Regions from separate parts of the Homo sapiens genome. Here region 2 is reported to be linked to region 1. Evidence: microRNA targets listed by miRTarBase, many of them from high-throughput screens and not tested one by one. Region 1 holds a microRNA gene; the other region holds the end of a gene's coding sequence.
Evidence for each region. Region 1 holds the annotated microRNA hsa-miR-4260 (CUUGGGGCAUGGAGUCCCA, at 1,953-1,971, shown strand). A microRNA usually pairs through its seed, bases 2 to 8, with sites in the 3' UTR of a target mRNA and lowers its output. Matches are read on the target gene's strand: a 7mer-m8 pairs with bases 2 to 8, a 7mer-A1 pairs with bases 2 to 7 and ends in A, and an 8mer does both.

Region 1 (3,000 bases):
GTGATGTGACAGAGCCACATGACCACCGAAGGGCAGAGCTGGGCCTCAGAACACAGTCCAGGAGCCCAAGCCCAGCGTTCTTTTAAGTGCCCAGTGCTGCCTGTGGGAGAGAGTCAGCTCTGGATTAGTCACCCTGGCGGAGGGCATCCGAGAGGCAGGGGCTCTAAAAATAACTCACGTGTGGCTTTGGAATGGAAGTTGGTCCCGCCCACACCCCCATCCCACCAGCAGAGGTGCCTTCTTAGTGAGGTTCAGTTCTGGAAGCTTCTATAATTAGTTTGCATTCCCTGAGCACTGGCTTTCTGACTGTGCACAGAGCCATCCAGGTGTGTGAGTGGTGGGGAAGGAAAAGGCAGCCTGAGAAGAATGAAAATGGAGGCTCCGTGACTCACGATGTGCTAGAGCTTCTGGCTGGGGGCTCCGGGAGAGGAACTCAAGCGAATATTGAAAACCAACCTACCTTCCTTCCTTCCTTCTTTTCCTTCTTTTTTCCTTCCTTCCTTCCTTCCCTTTTTTTCCTTCCTTCCTTCCTTCCTTCCTTCCTTCCTTCCTTCCTTCCTTCCTTCCTTCCTCTCTCTCTTTCTTTCTCTTTACATAATTTTAGAGCATCTATGATGAAACAAGCATTGTACAGGCATTGGGGATATTGAAATTAGTATGACATAATCTTTGCGCTCAAGAAGCTCGCACTGGGGAGAATGATGTGTAAATGGTAAACTATAATGTGACGCATGTTATAATGTGTCATGGCAGGCTTCACAGAGGTGCCTTCTGACCTAAGTCTCAGATTCGGGCAGTCAGTCCACCAGATTCAGTAGGTTGGAAACACAGGCATGGAGGGGCATTCCATGGAAGGGCGTTCTGTGCCTGATCAAAGCCTGGAGGTGGAGAATGTGAGGCTTGGAGGAGGGAGCTGGTGGTTGGGTTGGTGGAGCTGCAAAGGGCACAGGGAGAGAGGACTCTCCAAGAGCTCAGTGGCCAAGGGCCTGGGAGGTAGACTCTGAGCCTCCTTCGGGGGGATGACCAGCTGGCAGCAGTGATGGGATCTGGAGCTGAGTGGGAGGTGTGGACTGTGGAAGAGATTTTGGAGCTGCAGCTGTACAGATGGTAGCTGAAGCCAGCCCATAGAGAGCGAAGGAGGAGGGCATCAGGGCATTGCTCCTCATGGAAGCCAGGATCTGGAAGAGGGGGAGGAGAATTGGGAATGTTGGGTCATAGAAGTCAAGGGAGGAGAGTTTTGTGGCTCCATCTGCACCTGGACAGAGAAAGATTGTGCTGGTCGCCAAGCCTCTGTCCAGCGGAACCCCCTTAGCCTGTGGATTCTCTGTTCTGTTGCCTTTGCCCAAGGTCTCTGTTTGTTCTGACTCAGTAGCAGTTGCTCTGAGGGGATAGCTGCTTTGGGGAGGCAAAACTCCCTCCTATATTTTAGTGTAAGCTCCTCTCCCTTCTCAGGCGAACTCTCCAGGGCCTGCAGCTGGATCTGCCCCTGGAGGAGGAGACGTTGTCCCTTCCGAGAGACCTGGAGAGTCTTGACAGAAGCTTCAATGGTCTCCTTACTATGTATCAGAGGAAGAGGGAGCAGTTTGAAAAAATAAGCAGTGCTGATCCTTCAGGTGAGGAGAGGGGCACCCGGATAACCCCGGGCATGGGCACTGCCGTGGTGGGCATGCCACCCCCTCTCCCTCCTGCTCCTCCTCCATCTCCATTCCTCATGCTTCTCGCCACAGGAGCCTTCCGGATGCTGAGCACAGCCTACGAGCAGTCAGCCCAGGCTGCTCAGCAGGTCTCCGACAGCTCGCGCCTTTTGGACCAGCTCAGGGACAGCCGGAGAGAGGCAGAGAGGCTGGTGCGGCAGGCGGGAGGAGGAGGAGGCACCGGCAGCCCCAAGCTTGTGGCCCTGAGGCTGGAGATGTCTTCGTTGCCTGACCTGACACCCACCTTCAACAAGGTGACTTGGGGCATGGAGTCCCACTTCCTGGAGCCCACACCCCAGCTTGTCACACACCAACTGCTGCCACCTGCTTCCTATTAGGGCAGATCTGCCCCTGTGAGAACCCCACTCCCCCAGCCATCCCGACCCTTGTACTGCTCACTGTGAGCTCAGTGGTTGCCAAGGAAACCAGTTTCTGGTCCTTAGCTCTCATGGAGATGTCTGGCTGTTTCTGGTGCTTGGTTGTCATGGAGATGTCTGGCTGTTGGTTTCCCAGGTGTGGGGTGGGATTGGTTATTGAGGGGCTTTGGGTAGCCTCTTTAACACCGCCATCTGTCCACAGCTCTGTGGCAACTCCAGGCAGATGGCTTGCACCCCAATATCATGCCCTGGTGAGCTATGTCCCCAAGACAATGGCACAGCCTGTGGCTCCCGCTGCAGGGGTGTCCTTCCCAGGGCCGGTGGGGCCTTCTTGATGGCGGGGCAGGTGGCTGAGCAGCTGCGGGGCTTCAATGCCCAGCTCCAGCGGACCAGGCAGATGGTAAGTGCAGCCGAGGCGGGGTGGGCACAGGTAGGAGGAGGCAGACAGGATAGATCCCCCGGGCAAGTCAGAGTTCCCATTTTACACTAAAGTCCAGAGATTTTAGGTGACCTGCTTAAGGTGCCACAGCAAGTGCAAGATAGTTTTTTTTCTCTTTTACTGAACATCCACATGTAAGCTGGGTTGGTTACAAATGCTTCCTAGGTAGGTCTTGGCATAGAGGATGATCCGCAGAATCGTGGGGCTGCTGAGAGGTTCCCTTGGGGCCTTACCCCTTCTGACCTAGAGTGTATGTCAACAGATTAGGGCAGCCGAGGAATCTGCCTCACAGATTCAATCCAGTGCCCAGCGCTTGGAGACCCAGGTGAGCGCCAGCCGCTCCCAGATGGAGGAAGATGTCAGACGCACACGGCTCCTAATCCAGCAGGTCCGGGACTTCCTAACAGGTGAGCCCAGTCTCCACCCCACCTTGGCTGCTGTTCCAGTCCTGCCTGTCCCGCATTCCCATGTTCAGTGCATCAGCCAGCCC
Region 2 (3,073 bases), not on the chromosome of region 1:
CCAGGCATAGTGGGCTCTAGGTGCAAATGAGACACATGGCATCTCTGCTCACATGGAGGTTTGATTCCAGGGGTGCCCTGGTTTTATCCAGGGTACGGTTTGTGCAGATTCCCTGGCCCTCTGTTGGAGAATCTTTGAGCAGACCTGCAGTGGGGGGTGATCCGGGTAGGCAGACCTGCAGTAGGGGGGCGATCCGGACAGGTAGAGAGAGGTCAGCGCCTCACTTCAGATGTCCTGCAGAGAGAGAAGGAGCCCCTGATCTTCCTCTATTTCCCAGGAATCTAGGAGTCAAATTCTTTCCTTTTCAGGGCCCTTTGATTGCCACAGCCTTCACCAATGGGTACCACTGAAGCAGGGGACGGTGGCAGGAGGTGAGGATGTGGGGGTGGGCAGGTGGTGGGGTGGCACTGGGGAAGCCTGTCCTGGGCCATCGAATCTGGGACACAGACCCCATCCCTGCCCTCAAGAACCACAGTCCCAGGGGAGACAGATCTTTATACCAGCTGTGGTCAATAAAGATGAAAAGCTGCTCACCCTACTCCATTTAAACACAGAAATCAAAGCAACAGTAAGGCTTCACATCCCACCTATCAGGTTGGCAAAGATTATTATTATTATTATTTTTGAGACAAGATATCGTTCTGTCACCCACACCTCCTGGGCTCAAGGGATCCTCCCACCTCAGACTCCTCCCGAGTAGCTGGGACTGCAAGCACCTGCCACCATGCCTGGCTAATTTTTTTACTTTTTTTGTAGAGACAGGGTTTCACTGTGTTGCCCAGGCTGGTCTCAAACTCCTGGGCTCAAGGGATCCTCCTGCCCTGGTCCCCCAAAGTGCTGGGATTACAGGTGTGAGCCACCAGCGCAGGCCACAAAGATTTTTTAAGATCGTTTATTATTATTACTATTATTTTATTTTATTTTTGTAGATGGAGTCTCGCTCTGTCACCCAGGCTGGAGTGCAGTGGCGCAATCTTGGCTCACTGCAAACTCGTCCCCTGGGTTCAAGCAATTCTCGTGTCTCAGCCTCCCGAGTAGCTGGGATTACAGGCATGTGCTACCGCACCCAGCTAATTTTGGTATTTTTTTTGTTTTTAGCAGAGACGAGTTTTGCCATGTTGGCCAGGCTGGTCTCAAACTCCTGGCCTCAAGTGATCCATCTGCCTCGGCCTCCCAAAGTGCTGGGATTACAGGGGTGAGCCACCGTGCCCAGCCCTATTATTATTATTTTTAATAGAGATGTGGTCTCACTGCCACCCAGGCTGGAGTGCAGTGTGCAATCACAGCTCGCTGCAGCCTGGAACTCCTAGGCTCAAGCCATCCTCCACCTCAGCCTCCCAAGTAGCGGGGACCACAAGAGCATGCCACCATGCCTGGCTAAGTTTTTAAAAAATTTTTTTGTAGAGATGGGGTCTCATTATGTGGCCCAGGTTGGTCTTGAACTCCTGGCTCAAACGATCTTCCTCTGCCTTGGCCTCCCAAAGTGCTGGGATTTCAGGCATGAGCCACCGGGCCCAGCCACAAAGATTTTTTAAGTTGAACACTGCCCAGCATTGATCAAGATATGGGAGAAGCAAGTAAGTACAGTGGCTCAGGGGTTCCCGGGGCAGTCTGGCAGTGTTTGTCCCAGTTTCAAACATTCATGCCCTTGGACCCAACAATTCCACTTCTAGGCATTTATTTTTAAAACTGCAAATAACTGAAATATCCATCAAAAGGAAAGTGGTTAAACAAATTAGTGTGTGTACAGTGGTATAGTACACAGCTATCAAAACAGGATACCTTGGCCGGGCGCAGTGGCTCACGCCTATAATCCCAGCACTTTGCGGGGCCAAGGCAGGCGGATCACCTGAGGTCAGGAGTTCTAGACCAGCCTGGACAACATGGTAAAACCCCATCTCTACTAAAAATACAAAACTTGGCTGGCGTGATGGTGCGCACTTGTAATCTCAGCTACTCGGGAGGCTGAGGGACAAGAATCGCTTGAACCCAGAAAGCGAAGGCTGCAGTGAGCCGAGATCAGGCCACTGCACTCCAGCCTGGGCAACAGAGCAAGACTCCACCTCAACAAACAAAAAACAACAGGATACCTCGACTTGTGGGACTGTGTACACGGCCATCACAGTGTCTATCCAGATGGTGGGAGACTGTGAGCCCATGACATTCTGTTCATTCACCCATTCATTTATGAGCCCCATTCCAGGAAAGAGGATGAACAAGACAGACAAAGTCCTCTCTCATTTCACAGGACAAAAATCAAGTGAACATATGAGATAATTCCAGACTGTGCATGACAGGGCTATTTTAGATGTGGGGTTTAGAGAAGGTATCTCTGAGAAGGGGACATTTAAATAAATCCAGCCATTCGAAATCTGGGGAAAGAGGCATCCAACCAGGGAACAGAAAGTGCAAAGTCTGGCTGGGTGTGGTGGCTCACATTCGTAATCCCAGATCTTTGGGAGGCCAAGGCAGGAGGATGGCTTGAGGACAAGAGTTTGAGACTAGCCTGGGCAATATAGTGAATCCCCATCTCTGCTACAACAACAAAAATGAGCAGAGTGTGTTTGCTTTCACCTGTAGTCCCAGATACTACCTGTAATCCCAGAGTCTCAGGAGGCTGAGGCAGGAGGATCACTTGAGCCTAGGGAGGTTGAGGCTGCAGTGAACTATGATCGCTGTCACTGCACTCCAGCCTGGGCAACAGAGCTGGACTCTGTCTCTAAAAAAATAAGAAGAAGAAAGTAGGTAGTTTACGAACAAAGCTCTTCTGGGAGAGAACTGGGGAGGGCTGCGTGTGCTCCGGGAGCCCCCATAACCTCCTGGCTGTGTTCCCAGCGCCCCAGCCTGCAGCTGACTGAGGACCACGAGTGAGCCAGCGAGGGGGCGGGAGACCTCAGCCGCAGCCGCCGCCCCCTCCCCTGCAGCGACTCGGACCCGCTACTGCCTGCCCCCAACTCCCCGGGCCCGGCCCCTGCCCTGCTGCCCCCAACAGCGTCTGGCTCCCCTACTAACGTCCCCCTCTTCGCCCTTGCCCCCATCCCCACCCGCCCCTCTCCCGGCCCTGCTTTTATTT

Region 2: the mRNA of MSI1 is a reported target of hsa-miR-4260. The part of its 3' UTR that is shown has no 7-base or 8-base seed match.

The regions. Positions count from the first base shown.
Region 1 is chr1:209,622,453-209,625,452 of GRCh38, reverse strand. It overlaps MIR4260 (microRNA 4260), which reads left to right and starts at 1,943; the gene lies at 1,943-2,009. LAMB3 (laminin subunit beta 3) reads left to right here. Exons shown (of 23, transcript NM_000228.3): 15 at 1,453-1,613; 16 at 1,728-1,948; 17 at 2,274-2,471; 18 at 2,773-2,917.
Region 2 is chr12:120,342,868-120,345,940 of GRCh38, reverse strand. It overlaps MSI1 (musashi RNA binding protein 1), which reads left to right. Exons shown (of 15, transcript NM_002442.4): 14 at 309-371; 15 at 2,836-3,073. The coding sequence ends at 350. Among named protein-coding and RNA genes, the nearest start is that of PLA2G1B, 17 kb to the right of the region's middle.